Linked DNA regions of Homo sapiens: region 2 is linked to region 1. Evidence: fine-mapped expression QTL. Tissue or cell type: whole blood. Region 1 holds a variant in brackets; the other region holds the start of a gene. All regions are shown on one strand. Distances are between the middles of the regions.

What was found. PIP is the estimated chance that this variant, and not a neighbour inherited with it, causes the effect.
Region 2: it holds the start of ARL11, and the variant in region 1 is fine-mapped to the expression of ARL11 in whole blood (TOPMed, PIP above 0.99).

What each region holds. Positions count from the first base shown.
Region 1 is chr13:49,824,719-49,832,824 of GRCh38, reverse strand. No RefSeq gene overlaps it. Among named protein-coding and RNA genes, the nearest start is that of KPNA3, 36 kb to the right of the region's middle. The variant A/C (reference allele first, on the strand shown) is at 4,114.
Region 2 is chr13:49,623,819-49,631,924 of GRCh38, reverse strand. It overlaps ARL11 (ARF like GTPase 11), which reads right to left and starts at 3,418. Exons shown (of 2, transcript NM_138450.6): 1 at 3,310-3,418; 2 at 1-1,495. The coding sequence starts at 1,477. The coding sequence ends at 887. RefSeq lists an enhancer at 3,117-3,166.

The DNA.
Region 1 (8,106 bases):
TATTAGTCGGTTCTCACACTGCTATGAAGAAATACCCCAGACTGGGTAATTTATAAAAGAAAGGAGGTTTAATCTCACCGTTCTACATGGCTGGGGAGGCCTCACAATCATGGTGGAAGGTGAAGGAGAAGCAAAGGCACGTCTTACATGGTGGCAGGCAAGAGAGCATGTGTAGGAGAACTGCCCTTTGTAAAACCGTCAGATCTTATGAGACTTATTCACTATCACTAGAACAGCATGGGAAAACCCGCCCCCGTGATTCAATTACCTCCCACTGAGTCCCCCTCCCTCCCATGACATGTGGAAATTATGAGACCTACAGTTCAAGATGAGATTTGGGTGAGGACACAGCCAAACCTATCAATAATACTTACAAACATTATATGTTATAAACATAATACATTATAAGTGATATAATGAACATATAACAATGAAGGCTGGGTGCAGTGGCTCACGCCTGTAATCCCAGCACTTTGGGAGGCTGAGGCGGGTGGATCACCTGGTGGTCAGGAGTTTGAGACCAGTCTGACCAATATGGTGAAACCCCGTCTCTACTAAAAATACAAAAATTAGCTGGGCATGGTGGTGGGCACCTGTAAAATAAAAATAAAAATAATTAAATAAAAAATTTTGAAACAAAACAAGTAACAAAAAAAGAACATGAAACTCTGACCAGTCTCTAAGTAGATAATTTAATAGGCAATATCTACTTCTTCAAAAAGCAATTAATAATAAAACTATTTCAGGATAATTAAAAGAGATAAAATATGAAGCCCCTCGAGAATTTGCATATTTTTGCATCTCCAGTGACTAGAATAATACTGACCTTTCCTGGTTGCACTCTAATCTTTTTGCATCTTTTCTCAATCTTTTTTTACTGCATGTTCCTCTATTTACTCCTGAGGATCCAAAACAGATATGGAAGAGATAAAGAGAACTAAAAGAAACTATTCTGTGCAACTCTAGAAATGTATCTGAAAATAGAGGAAATTGATAGCTTTCTAGTAAAATATAACTTAGCAAAATTGAGCCAAGTAAAGGAAGAAAATCTAAACAGATCAATGCCCACGGAAGAGACTAGAAAGGCAATTTAAATCTAACAGTTGAAAAAGCACCAGTCTCTGGTGGTTTTGTATCTGTATTCTGTTACCCTTTACCGCAGTGCTACTCAGCTGGTTACAGAACTGTTTGCTACCAGCCCGCAAAAAGTTAAGGAGCTTGCACTGGAACATAAATCAGTATATTGCTTCCTTCATCAACAAAGTCTTTGCTAAAAAACAAAAAACAAAACTCAGCTAAATAGTACATTCGAGCTAAATAGTATGTTTGATTTATACTTTAGTGCCTGCAGAACACATTTTGAGTAGCATTGCTTTATGAATAGATAATTTCTGTTATGTAAACTCTTTCAGGCTATAGGAAAAAAACCACTAAAAATCTCTAAAACATTGTATGAAGGCATCTCAATCTACAAATCTAAATAAGATACTAACAGAAAAAAAAGAAAGAAGAGAAGAGAAAAGGAAGGAAAATAAATACTCTAGATATTAGAGATTTCATAGAGAACAAGTCAGAGTATTGGCTGGAGGAGATTATGGTTTAGTGGAGGGAGACTGGGCACAGTATAAAAACAATATGCTGGCAAGTACTACTAAGAAGATAAAATAGGGAAATGTGGTGAGTTACTGGGGTGGGGAAAATCCACTTTAGCTGCTGTAACAGAGATCATCGTTTTTTGAAAATATAAAAATTTAAATAGTTAACACATGCACTTTGTACAAAATTCAAAAGCTATAAAAGTCAGGAGAGGCTGCCAATTTGGGGGAATAGGTGGAAATTCCAAATAGTTCAAAACGATTGTGACACTTGAGAGAAGGAAGAGCTGGGGGTATGGGTTATGACACTTCTGCCCAGCAGCCTTCCAGGTGTGCAGTCCCTAAGAGCCTACAGCCAGGACCTAATGACACTGCATTCAGAAACAATTTAAATTGCAGGAAACAGTTCATTGCCAGTTGTTAATTTATTGCTAGATGTTACTGTTTTTTTAAAAGTGTTTGGGGGAATTGTTCTTCCTCAAAGTGAGAGACGAGCATGTGTACAGGGTATAGAACTATAGCTTTTCTGGGCCCATCACTGAAAAGGGAGCAGTGGGAGAAAGAGAAGAGGACCCATAGGCATTGCACACCTACTGTGTCCCATGCATTTTGCTTGTGTTACTTCCGTTCATGCATATTTGGAAGCCTCTATTCTGAACAAGAGCCCCTTACCCCACTGAAGATCCAAACTAAAGCCGCCTTTCACAGGAACCACAGCAAGAGGCAGCCAGTCAACTGCTCCTGTGGGAGAGAGGGAGGGAAGGGGCAAAACAGGGGCAACAGCATGGGCTGAGAACTTCTCCAGCCTCAGTTCTCCCATGCTGCCACTCACTACATTGCCTCCTTGTTGAACCATCTAAAATTCCCCTCCACACCATTTAATTTCCCCCTCCAACAAAGACCCTCTCCTTGACCAAACCTGACTCATGCTCCTCTGAGCCTTCTTCTCCACTTAGACTCCACTAAGACCTTGGCACCTGTCCTGTCTTTGGCCTGCCTAGCCCAGTATGAACAAGAATATTGCTAAGTCAGTTTAGGGAGAATTCCCTCCATTTTGTGGTCTGATCACCACTGATACCTGAGCAAGTTCCTCATCCTCCACCTTTGATGTCTAAGTCCTTGGCTTTCCTTCAGTGAGAATCCTGCTAGTTCAGTTTAGCAAGAATCTCTCTACCCTTGATGTCTCCTCCTAGTAATTTTTCACCCACCAACCCCGTCACTCTGCTCCTTGACTATAAGTATCCATTTGTCCAAGCTGTGTTCAGAGTTGAGCCTGATCTCTCTCTCCTATTGCAATAGTCTTAAATAAAGTCTTCCTTATAGCATTTCAACAAGTGTCAGAATGACTTTTTTGTAGTGCCCCTACACCTTTGTATACCAGAAGCCCCTAAAATGAGCCTTTGTCATTGTCCTACCTTCAGGCCAGGAAACTGATCAAACTTGATCTTCTCTGCAAATTTACCATCTTCTTTTCCCCTTACTGTTAGTCCATAGCGTAGCATTTACCTCTCAGATTGTCTCTGACACCCTTTAGCACAAGGATTCCCTTATCCATTTTTTTCTTTTCCTTTTTTTTTTTTTTTTTTTTTTTTTTTTTTTGTTTGTTTTTGAGATGGAGTCTCGCTCTTGTTGCCCAGGCTGGAGTGCAATGAAACGATATAGGCTCACTGCAACCTCCACCACCCGGGTTCAAGCAATTCTCCTGCCTCAACCTCCTGAATAGCTGAGATTACAGGCACATGTTACCACGCCCGGCTAATTTTTGTACTTTTAGTAGAGATGGGGTTTAGTCATGTTGGCCAGGCTGGTCTTGAACCCTAACCTCAGGTGATCTGCCCGCCTCAGCCTCCCAAAGTCCTGGGATTACAGGTTTGAGCCACCCTGCCCGGCCACTTTTTTTTTTTTTTTTTTTTTTGAGACAGCATCTCACTCCGTCGCCCAGGCTGGAGTGCAGTGGCACGATCATGGCTCACTGCAGCTTCGACCCTCCTGTAGTCAGGTGATCCTCCTGCCTCAGCCTCCCAAGTAGCTGGGACTACAGGCATGCACCACCACACTTGGCTAGTTTTTGTATTTTTTTTGTAGAGATGGGGCTTCGCCATGTGGTCCATGCTGGTGTCAAACTGCTGGGCTCAATGATCCACCAAACAGCCCCTAGACTGGGGCTTAGCCTTGGAGAATTATTGACCTCACCCAGGAAAAAATTCAAAGATGAGCTGGTGGTGTTAGACAGCAATCTTTTATTGAATGGTACTGCTTCTTGCAGAGCAGGGCGAATTCATAGGCAGTGCACCCAGAGTCAGCAACATATGGGCACTTGGAAACTGTATTTATACTCACTTATGCCCACTTTTAAGTATATGCAAATTAAGGAAAGGTTAATGCAAAATGAGATGGGTTATTTAGAACTTCTTGGAAAGGGATGGTAACTTCTGGGTCATTGCCATGGTATTTATAAACTGTCATGGCACTAGTGGGAGTGTCTCACACTAATAAGCAAGGAGGGCAGGTAGGGAGC[A/C]CTTTTGTTGCCATCTGCTGGTTTTGGCCAGTTTCTTCACATTATCCTGTCTGAACTAGATCCTATTTTCGTCAGCAGGGTTGTGACCAGAAAACAAGTCCTATCAGTCTCCTACCTCACTTCCCCCTTAGAAATTAGATACACTTCCTGATTTTTTTTTTTTTTTTTTTTTTGAGATGGAGTTTTGCTCTTGTTGCCCAGGCTGGAGTGCAGTGGTACAATCTCGGCTCACTGCAACCTCTGCCTCCTGGGTTCAAGCAATTCTCCTGCCTCAGCCTCCCAAGTAGCTGGGATTACAGGCGAGCACCACTACACCCGGCTGATTTTTGTACTTTTAGTAGAGATGGGGTTTTGCCATCTTGGCCAGGCTGGTCTCGAACTCCTGGCCTCAGTTGATCCACCTGCCTCAGCCTCCCAAAGTGCTGGGATTACAGGCATGAGCCACTGTGTCTGGCCAAAGCCTCCTAATCTTAAGGGGGCTGCAGAGGGGTGAAGGTCCATCTTCTGTAACTACTTCTTGCTGATTTTATGGGCATAGACCCCGCCTAGTATTGGCAGTGTAAAAGTCTCTGGATACCTGACCTAAGAGGCCCAATGGCAGGATGTTTTTCTTTTCCAGGTCCAAAGACCGGATGAGTTGGAAGCCTTGTGCTGGCATCATCTTTATGTGGAATCTAGAAGATACAAAGTTTACGAGGGAGGCTAAACAAGAAAATTACAATTAGGAGGAAGAGAAAAATTAATGCTCCTACCCCCACCCACAGCATCCTGTTATTTATCTATGTGCTTGCAAAACAACAGCCTTAAGTTTCTAGGTTCATAAATGTAGGTTGTGGTGTGCTCCTTTTATGCCCATGGGGAACTCATAAGACACAGGTTTAATCCTGGACAGGTGTACACAGCTAGTGACTCTCTGAAGCTTAACAGCAGTGACAGTATTTATCAATACCTGAAGGGGCCCTTCCATTTTGGTTTTAACTGATGATCAGGGGATCTTTTTTTGAAGTTTTTAGTAACACTAAGTCTTCTGATTGAACCGAGGAGCTATTTATTTTTCTCTGTGGGAAAGGCCAATACTTTATTTTCAAAATTTTTAAAGACCTTTTGAACCTGGCCTAAATTCCAAGGGAAAGGCATAGTGAGGCAGCTGACTCCCTGTTTCCTGTCATGGCCTGAGTTACTTTTTCCATTTTTTTGGCAGGGGGAGGGATTCTCTTTGGCCAGCAGACTTAGAGTCCAATGACTTGTAGCCAATTAAACATTCTAGGCCAGATAGAAGTGGAGGTGGGCATGTATTCATTAGCCCTCAAAGCCCTTTTAAGCAATATAAGAGTCAAAAACTGGCCAGGCGTGGTGGTTCACTCCTGTAATCCCAGCACTTTGGGAGGCCGAGGCGGGTGGATCACGAGGTCAGGAGATTGAGACCATCCTGATCAACATGGTGAAACCCCATCTCTACTAAAAATACAAAAATTAGCCGGGCGTGGTGGCATGCGCATGTAATCCCAGCTACTCGGGAGGCTGAGGCAGGAGAATTGCTTGAACCAGGGAGTCAGAGATTGCAGTGAGCCGAGATCAAGCCACTGTACTCCAGCCTGGTGACAAAGTGAGACTCCGTCTCAAAAAAAAAAAAAAAGAAAAGAAAAAGAGAGTCAAAAACTAAAAGCCAAAAATAAAGTTATATTCAAGGAAAACCACGAGCATAGAATTAAGCTGTATTCAGGAAAAACACTGGTCCCGCAGACCTCTAAGAAAACACTTTAGCATCAGATCACAGCAACTGTCAGAACTGCAGGAGAAAAAGTCACAGGAGCTGATGAAAAAGCTGAAGGAGAGAGTTACACAAATTTGAAAAGCTTTCAAAAGAAATATATCACAGAATGGAAAAGCAAAAGTTCTGGTAATTTAGCAAATGAACACCTAAAGAAAACCCAGTTTCAACACATAGGCTTTTTTTTTTTTTTTTCTTTTCCTTTTCTTGAGACAGAGTCTTACTCTTGTCACACAGGCTGGAGTGCAATGGCACGATCTTGGCTCACTGCTCGAACCTCTGCCTTCCTGGTTCAAGCGATTCTCCTCCTCAGTCTCCCGAGTAGCTGGGATTACAGGCTCACACCACCACGCCCAGCTAATTTTTGTGTTTTTAGTAGATACGGGGTTTCACCATATTGGCCAGGCTGGTCTGGAACTCCTGACCTCAGGTGATCTGCCCACCTTGGCCTCCCAAAGTACTGGCATTACAGGTGTCAGCCACTGCGCTTGGCACATAGATCATTTTCTAGAAAGTCTACCACAAACAATTTCCCATCAATCATAGCCAGCTTAGTCAAACACTTAACTCCCCTCACAAATTCCCCTTCATGAGCCCCTCACAGCCCACACAGACCGTCCATGACATGTCTGGACCCTCTGACCCATCCTACGTCACCTCCCTCCCAAACACCAGTGACTTTATTCTAGTACAAGAATCTACCACACAAGATTTCTCGTTACACAAGATCATTTAAAAATATATATATTCCACCCCACCAAAAAAAAAAAGTCTTCTATCCATAACTCACCACATATCTCTCTTTTTTATTCGCAGATTCCTTTATATTTTGAACCTCCCTTTTAATAATTTCTGAATTGAACAAGTTATTCTTTTTCACAATAAAGAATATATATCTTCCCTGGTACATTATATATAAATTTAGAAAGCAAAGAATCCTGAACTATCAGATATTGACATTCTATAGATGAGAACCACTCTATAATTTTAAGATTGATTGATTGATTGATTGATTGATTGATTGATTGATTTTGAGACAGGGTCTCACTGTCACCCAGGCTGGGGTGGAGTGGTACAGTCTCAGCTCACTGCAATCTCCACTTCCTGGGCTCAAGCGATCCTCCCATGTCAGCCTCCCAAGTATCTGGGATTACAGGTGCATGCCACCATATCCAGCTAATTTTTGTATTTTTTGTAGAGATGGGATTTCATCATGTTACTCAGGCTGGTCTCAAACTCCTGCTCAAGCAATCTGCCTGCGTTGGCCTCCCAAAGTGCTGGGATTACAGGTGTTAGCCACCATGCCCAGCCAATCTTAAGATTTTAAACTACACAAAAAGTTCAACATTTAAAGCCATTTTAACCATTCTAAAGCCTATGAAAATTAGTATTTTATCTAAGTAAAAAGCTTAAAGTTAAATTTTAGAAGTCACAATATTCCCTTCAAACTAACAAATTTAGTCCTATTTGTTTAATTTATGAGTGCTCTTTTATTTATAAGCCAATGTTTTGGTTTTGTTTTGTTTTGTTTTGTCTTATTTTTGTTTCCGAGATGGAGTTTCACTCTTGTTCCCCAGGCTGGAGTGCAACGGGATGATCTCTGCTCACTGGAACCTCTGCCTCCCAGGTTCAAGTGATTCTCCTGCCTCAGCCTCCAGAGTAGCTGGGATTACAGGTGCACGCCACCACACCCAGCTAATTTCCGTGCTTTTAGTAGAGGTGAGGTTTCACCATGTTGGCCAGGCTGGTCTCGAACTCCTGATCTGAGGTAATCCACCTGCCTCAGCCTCCTAAAATGCTGGGATTACAGGCCTGAGCCACTGTGCCCAGCCTATGAACCAATTTGATAGCATGCTAGACACAACACACATCACACAAATGAAGTGACCTATACAAGACAGCTGGATCTGTTATTTACAAAATTGGGACCTGTCTACCTGGCCAAATATCGTTTGCTCCAATAGGTATGGAAGACAGGAAGAGGCAGGGAAGGGGATCTTGTAGCATCAAATAAGGAAAGGAAGGGGCAAAGCCCATTGCTAAAGGGGAGACCTCAGAGTCCCTGAGCTGCTAGAGAGGTCACCCAGCAGCAGAGACACGGAAGAAGAATGTTTGGGTGGCTACTTGTCTGCCACTGTGGGAAGCTAACCATTGGATCAAGGGTCCGGGATTTGATCCAAAGGTTCTTTTCAGGACCATCATCTTTCCTGGCAGATGGTGGA
Region 2 (8,106 bases), 200 kb after region 1:
GCCACTGGGGAAAATCACTCATAAGGATCCGCGATCCATTGTGACATGTCCAGATGATATTTGAATTTGACTTTTTTTTTTCTTTTTGGAGACACAGCCTGTCTTTTTCACCCAGGCTGGAGTGCAGCAGCACAATCTCGGCTCACTGCAACCTCCACTTCCTGGGTTCAAGCGATTCTTCTGCCTCAACCTCCTGAGTAGCTGGGACTGCAGGCGTGCACCACTATGCCTAATTTTTGTATTTTCAGTAGAGATGGGGTTTCACCATGTTGGCCAGGCTGGTCTTGAACTCCTAGCCTCAAGTAATCTGCCCTCCTCCGCCCATGAGCCACTGCACCTGGCCTCAAATTTGATTTTAAAACCTCTTTCCCTATTTGAGAATTTAGGTCTCTATTATTATGCAACCAGTGGCTACTCTATTATGACATATTGCTTCATTCACACTTGGTAACGAGCTATTAAATGAAGTATGTTGAGATTTTTTTCTTAGAGTATCATCATTATTATTATTATTATTATTGAGACAGGGTCTCACTCTGTTGCCCAGACTGGAGTGCAGTGGCGCGATCTTGGCTCACTGCAACCTCTACCTCTTGGGCTCAAGCGATTCTCCTGCCTCAGCCTCCCAAGTAGCTGGGACTACAGGCACATGCCACCATGCCCGGCCAATTTTTTGATTATTAGTAGAAATGGGGTGTTGTGATGTTGCTCTCCAACTCCTGGGCTCAAGGGATTCCCCCACCGTGGTCTCCCACAGTGCTGGGATTACAGGCATGAGCCACCGGGCCAAGCCAGCATTTCTTGTTTGATAGACTAAGCGTAAATTTCTCAAGGATCAGCTGGTTCTTCTAGTTTGTATGAGCAAAGATATGCTGCTCTGTCTGGATCAAGATCTCTTGCTGTCTCCGCGCTCAGCCCCATGGGCTCTCGCCTGCAGACACATGCAGCTGCGAGATTTCAGGAGGCTCCACAGGCTCTGCAGGGCCTCGGGCAGCCCCTCCCCAGTGAGGGCACTGCAGCCCCGGAGCTCCCAGCAGTGGTCCTGGAATCTCTCTAGACTCAGCCTGTTTCTGATCTTAAGCAGCGGAAGTGCATCAGGTGCCTCCTGCTTGTTGGCCAGCACCAAGAAGGGGACGCCAGCCATGTTGGGGTCGTTCAGGACTTCTGTGAGCTCAGCCGCCGACTCGGGTAAGCGGGCTTCATCTGTGCTGTCCAGCACGTACACGAGGATATCTGTGCCTTCCAGATAGTCCTTCCAGCTGGCTCTGAGCGGGGCCTGCCCCCCAACGTCCCAGAGAGTCAGTGACACGTGCCCAGGAGCTTTCAGAGGCTCCACGTTGAAACCAACAGTGGGCAGGGTCTCCACCAGCTGGTGGCCCTTCAGCTTGTAAAGGAGCGTGGTCTTGCCCGCCGAGTCCAGGCCCATCATCACCACCTGGGCTTCCGCCTTGTGACCTCTGGAATTCACAGAACCCATGGTGGCCACTGCTGAATCCTAGGGGAGAAAGGCCAGGGCACACATCAGCTACTGTCTTCTGAAGGAAGACAAATCCATCCTGGTGCAGTGGCTCACACCTGTAATCCCAGCACTGTGGGAGGCCAAGGCAGGAGGATCACTTGAGCCCAGGAGTTTCAAACAAGCCGAGGCAACAAAGCAAGGACCCGCCTTCTCTACAAAAATTGAAATTAAAAATGGAGCACAAATCTGTGCAGGCAAACAACGGAAGAGTTTTTCCAAAACAGGAAAAGTCTTCACAGGGTCAGATTTTAAACAGATGCCTGGGCTTTGAAGGAAGTGAGGATGTGTGAGTCACCATCAGCTAACCTGTCTCTGGGTCAGATAAGAGTGGTCCCTGAGCAGAGAAGATCAGGGGCCTCCTGGAAGACATTCCTGAGGAGTTAAAGCAAAGAGGCAAAATGAAGTTCCAGTCAGACAGAGCTGGTTCAGTAGAAATTACAGAACGATGTCTTCAATTCTTGCTGGTCTGTGGCTTCTAACCTCTTCTCCTCCTATAAGCCTAAATGCTGAAATGGAAGCTAAGCTGGGTTCCATGCACAGAGTGAGAAGGATGGTTCAGCTCACGGTGACCTCTCTTTAGAGCTTCCCAAGGACCAGTACTATGTCTTGGAAACACAGTGAGGTGTCACTTAATGACGGGGACACATTCTGAGAAATGCTTCATTAGGCAATTTCATCATTTTACAAAATCATAGATTGTAATTACACAAACGTGGATGGTCTAGTCTACTCCACACCTAGGCTATATGGTATGGCCCATTGCTCCTGGGCTACACACCGGTACAGCATTCCTGTAATGGGTACTGTAGGCTATTGTAACACAGTGCTAAGTATTCGTGTATCTAAACATAGAAAAGGTAGTGGTTGCACCACAACACTAAGCTGAAAAATAGGAATTTTTCAGCTCTGTTATAATCTTATGGGACCACCGTTGTATATGTGGTCTGTCGTTGACTGAAATGTCTTCATGCAGTGCCTGACTGGGGCTATTTATAAATACTGTTTACTGGGGGCAAATTTATGAGTCAGAGCAAAGCAGTTTCCTCCACTGTCTTACCAAGGTCAATGACTTCTACAACACTCCACATGTGCTTTTTTGTTTGTTTTTGGGTTTTTTTGTTTTGTTTTGTTTTGTTTTGTTTTGAGACAGGGTCTCACTCTGTCGCCCAGGCTGGACTGCAGTGGCATGATCACAGCTCACTGCAGCCTCGACTTCCCAGGCTCAAGCCATCCTCCCACCTCAGCCTCCCCAGTAGCTGGGACTATGGGCATGTGCCATCACACATTTTTGTTGTTGTTTTGAGACAGGGTCTCACTGTGTCACCCAGACTGGAGTGCAGTGGTGCAATCTTGGCTCATCACAACCTCTGCCTCCCTGCAACCTCCGCCTCCTAGGTTCAAGGGATTCTCCTGCCTCAGCCTCCCGAGTACCTGGGATTACAGCTACTACTACCACCCAGCTACTTTTTGTATTTATATTAGAGACGAGGTTTCACCATGTTGGCCTGGCTGGTATTGAACTCCTGACCTCAAATTATCCACCTGCCCGGCCTCCCAAAGTGCTGGGATTACAGGCGTGAGCCACTGTGCCCAGCCACATATGTTTTTAAAGAATCCCAAATTTTAAGACATAAGACCTGTTCCCAACTTAGACGATGCCTGCGTGGAACAGAGAAGAGACATCTCAACTTCCGGGAATGGGGGTGGGGGGATATGAGCTGCCTCTGGAAGGAGGTAAGCCTCTACTCATCCCTACTCCCAAGGGTAGAAAAGTAAAAAGTTAAAATTACCTCTGTGTTACTATTAGACTGCAGCTGTGAGATCCTGCGTGGCTCTCCTCCCCTATGGAGCTGCTTTCTGCTGGCCAGGCATGACCCAAGAGCGAGATGGGAAGGAAGCAGAGCAGCCGTTGCTGCTTCTCCTTTTTGTGCTTCCTTTTCCCAGGTGGCTGGGGGGCGGGGCTGGTGTCACGGCCCCTCCCTCAGCCCTAGGGCGCCTCAGAGCAGTCATCTTGCTGGGCTTGCCACAGAGAGGTCCCCGGCTCTGCAGGTCCTGGCAGAGCAAGGCCCAGTGACAGCTCCATTTTTTAGCAACTCAGACTTGGGTGCCTGAAGGAGGGAGCACGAGCTCGGAGCTGTGTCCAAGCGCAGCCGCCTTCTCTCTTCCCTCAGGATCCTCTGAGCTCCTCGCAGAGAATTCTGACCTCTTCCTTTCAGTACATGCCTCAAGGTTTTTCTGGTGGCTAGAGATTCTCTGATTTGCTTGGAATCACACATGGTTTGTTGTTGTTGTTGTTGTTGTTTTGTTTTGTTTTCTATTTGAGACCGAGTCTTGCTCTGTCGCCCAGGCTGGACAGCAGCCTCCGCCTCCAGGGCTCAAGCGATCCTCCCTCCTCAACCTCCTAAGCAAGTGGGATTATAGGCAGGTGCCACCATGCCCAGCTGATTTTTGTATTTTTCATAAAGACAGGTTTCACCATGATGGCCAGGCTGCACATGTGTTCTTTTAAAAGCTGCCTATGGCCAGGCGTGGTGGCTCAGGCCTGTAATCCCAACATTTTGGGGGGCTGAGGTGGGTGGATCACGAGGTCAGGAGTTCGAGACCAGCCTGGCTAACATGGTGAAACCCCGTCTCTACTAAAAATACAAAAATTAGCTGGGCGTGGTGGCACCTACCTGTAGGCCCAGCTATTTGGGAGGCTGAGGCAGGAGAATGGCATGAACCCGGGAGGCGGAGGTTGCAGTGAGCCCAGATCACACCACTGCACTCCAGCCTTGGTGACAGAGCGAGACTCTGCCTCAAAACAAAAACAAAAACAAAAAACAAAAAAAGCTGTCTACATATGATGAAAACATTCTTTAAAAGGTATGTATGATGCAGATCAACCTTTAAAATTGTGTTAATGTAGTGATTAAAGTTACCGTTCAATTTTTTCTTGAATGGTGTCACTGTGTTTTTCCCAGTAAAAATGACACCTCTAGAAAATGTAATTTTTAAAAAATTGGCTAGTCGCCGGGCATGGGGGCTCATGCCTGTAATCCCAGCACTTTGGGAGGCCAAGGCAGGAGGATCGCTCAAGCTCAGGAGTTCAAGACCAGCCTGGCCAATATGGTGAAACCACGTCTCTACAAAAAATAATAAATTAACCAGGCATGGTGATGTGTGCCTGTAGTTCCAGGTACTTGGGAGATTGAGGCCCAAGAACTGCATGAGCCCAGGAGGTGGAGGCTGCAGTGAGCTGAGATCACAGCACTGCACTCCAGCCTAGAAGACAGAGTGAGACTCTGTCTCTCTCCTATTTTTTTTTTTTAATTGAGATGGAGTCTCGCTCTGGCGCCCAGGCTGGAGTGCAATGGCACAATCTCGGCTCACTGCAACCTCCGCCTCCTAGGTTCAAGCAATTCTCCCACCTCAGCCTCCCGAGTACCTGGGATTACAGGCACGTGCTACCATGCCTGGATAATTTTTTTATTTTCAGTAGAGACAGGGTTTTGCCATGTTGGCCAGGCTGGTCTCCAGCTTCTAATCTCGAGTGATCTGCCCGCCTCGGCCTCCCAAAGAGCTGGGATTACAGGTGTGAGCCACTGCACCCAGCCGAGACTCTGTCTCAAAAAAAAAAAGAAAAAAAGAAAAAAAATTGACTAGTCAGAAACCACTGATTCAGTAGGTATTGAATTTGGATATGGAGTCACAGTGATTTAGCTCTTATAACCAGTAATCTTTGTGCTGTTTTCTGCTTTCCCATGCATTATTTCATTAAAATATCAAGACTCAAGTTGGATGTTATGACTCTTCCATTTTACAAGAAAAGAAGCAGGCTCGGTTGGAAGGCCGAGGCGGGCAGATCACAAGGTCAAGAAATCGAGACCATCCTGGCCAACATGGTGAAACCCCATCTCTACTAAAAATACAAAAATTAGCTGGGCATGGTGGCGCACACTTGTAGTCCCAGCTACTCGGGTGGCTGAGGCAGGAGAATCGCTTGAACCCGGAAGGCGGAGGTTGCAGTGAGCTGAGATCGCGCCACTGCACTCCAGCCTGGTGACAGAGCAAGACTCTGTCTCAAAAAAAAAAAAAAAGAAGCAGGCTGGGACAGGGTGAATCATTGACTCATGATCTTGCTGCGTTTTATAATTCATCTCTTTCTCTTTTACCATGTCATGCTACTCACACAGAAAGTGCCTTGTAAATGGCAAACACCAGATTGTTGTTGTCATTGTTTTTGTTAAGCTACTGTATTTTAGCAGGAAGAACTGATTAGGAAAAGTCAGAAACTCAAAGTGTGTTATGTGCACCACTGTGTGAGGGTATTGATGCTGCTCTTGGTTTGCTCTTTTCAGTGCCTGTGGTCAGTGATCATCCTTTTTCAAGGCCAGGGGGTGTGTGGGGAGGAGACAGAAACAGATAGAGTGCTCCTGGGGGTGGAATTATCCCAGGGAAGTCTCAGAGCAATAAAGAATCGTCTGGTGGAGGGCTTGTCATTCTCGCCCAAACTGCAGCGGGATCGGCTCACGCTGGGACTAAGTCCTGTCCGGGCCCAGCTGCTGAGTCAGCAGGAATCCTGCAAGGGCCCGATTTGCAGGAAGATTGGGGCCGGACGAGGATGACAGCAGGCCAAGGTTGAGGGGCTCCTGGGGGTGGGGGAGCTGGGGTGCTGCTCTGACCCAGTTCCCAGAGCAGCACCAGGGCTAGGTTTGGGCCCCATGGAGGCAGGGAGGGAGCAGAAGCTGTAGAAGCATTAGCACAGTGGCTTGGAGGCACCATGCCAGGCTGCCTGGGTGACCTATGCCCTGGGTGACACAGAGAGAGAAGGGACACTCCCCTTGGCCTCTAGCCTGGAGCTTGGGGCCACATGGCCAGGCTGCAGGCTGCCTCTGGAGGTAGCTGCGTGGCACTGACCACAGAATCTGAGACAGGCACCGCCATCAAGGGGCCGGCTGGCAGTCAGGGGTGGATCTGTGAGCACTGCTGGGGGGCACAGGCTCCCCCAGACATCAAGGAGCCTTGCCTGAGGGCCAAAGTCTTGTGTTCGCTGGGAAACCATGATTACTTTGTGACCCCAGTTCTGCCCAAAGGCCCTTGTGGCCTGAGTTTCTCTGTACAGCCCCGACCCTGACCCCTTCAGCTCAACCAGCAGGGAAGCTTTTCATTAGACACCCCAACGTGGGGAGGCTCACGAGGGCTACTGCCCCGGGAGGCAGCGCAGAGCAGAAGGTAACAGTGTGGCTTTGATTTGGGTCCACCTGGGGGCACACTTGGCCTCCACTGCTTATTTGCTGTGAACCTCAACCTGAATTTCTCTGCACCTCAGTTTCCTTCTCTATAAAATGAGGTTGATGACGATAATAATGGTACCTAACTTGAAGGGTTATTGGAAGGATTTAATAAGTGAAGACACATCAAGTACTTAGCCCAAAGCCTGGCGTCTAGTCCCAGACTAGTTCTGTTAGAGAAGGACAGGAGAGCCCTCAAACGTAGTGGTGTGGCTGGAGAAAGTGACGCTGGTGAATGTGCAAGCCCCAGCACCTTTGTGTGTCTGTGACTGCAGCTTCCAGACCTGGAATAAGGAAAAGGGGCTACACGGGGCTCACTGATACCAGGAGAGACAAAGGTCTTAGGCCCCATCTCTACTGCCCTAAGAGTGTGAGTTTAGAAATGTCCTCCTGCCAACTCTCATACAGGTGGTCAGGCCTGGAGGAGCACGGCACGCCCATTGCACTCACCAAAAAATAACTTGTAAGCCAGGATGCTTCTTCTGATGTTTCTTATGGGATCTGTTTGACCCAAGAGCTGGGGCGGTTTTCTGTGCAGCACAGCTAAGGGAAGGCAGGGGGCCAGGGGCACGCAGAGGACACACACAGGGACTGAAGGAGTCAACTGTAGGGACGACATCCAAATGGGTTGCTGGAAGACCATGGAAAGTTGGTGGTTTTTAAGGGGTTGTTTATCATGCAACAGAGCCTCGTGGTCACTTTTCTGCTCTCTACAGATAGGTCCAAAGGAGGAGAGTGCTAGAACAAGAGCTTTATTCTCCTGGAAAGTGCTAGAGAAACATGGACGGAGTCTCTTGTCCAGCCCTCCTTTCCCTGGGCTCCATAACGGCCCCCACCTTTTTATCTTGTTGTGACCTCCTCTTGCTCTGGTCTCTCACTTTCTCAACTTGCAATATGCAAATTAATAACTTTTTTCCAGGGACTGCCTCTTTTAAAAATCAAATTCTATTTCTTTCTATTTTCAAGCCATCCATACAAAATTCTGAAGGTACAAAAGAGTAGAGCATCAAGGACGTTCTCCTTTCACCGCAGTGCTCCAGCCATGCCAGACCCTCCCTGGGAAACAGCTCACACCATTGGTTTCTTAGACATTTTTCCAGAGATATTCTACGCACATATAAGCAAGTAGGGTGCATTGGGGTTTTTTTCATGGTTTTCCTTTTTTTTTCCCTCAATAATCACTTACTTTGAGGAATGCAATTTCTTGTATAAATCTCTCAATCAGAAGTTCTCAGCCATGAGCTGTGTTGAGGATCAGTGGGAGACAAAGGGGAGGAGAGACAGCCAGGAACCCTAGGAACCATCCACCTTTCC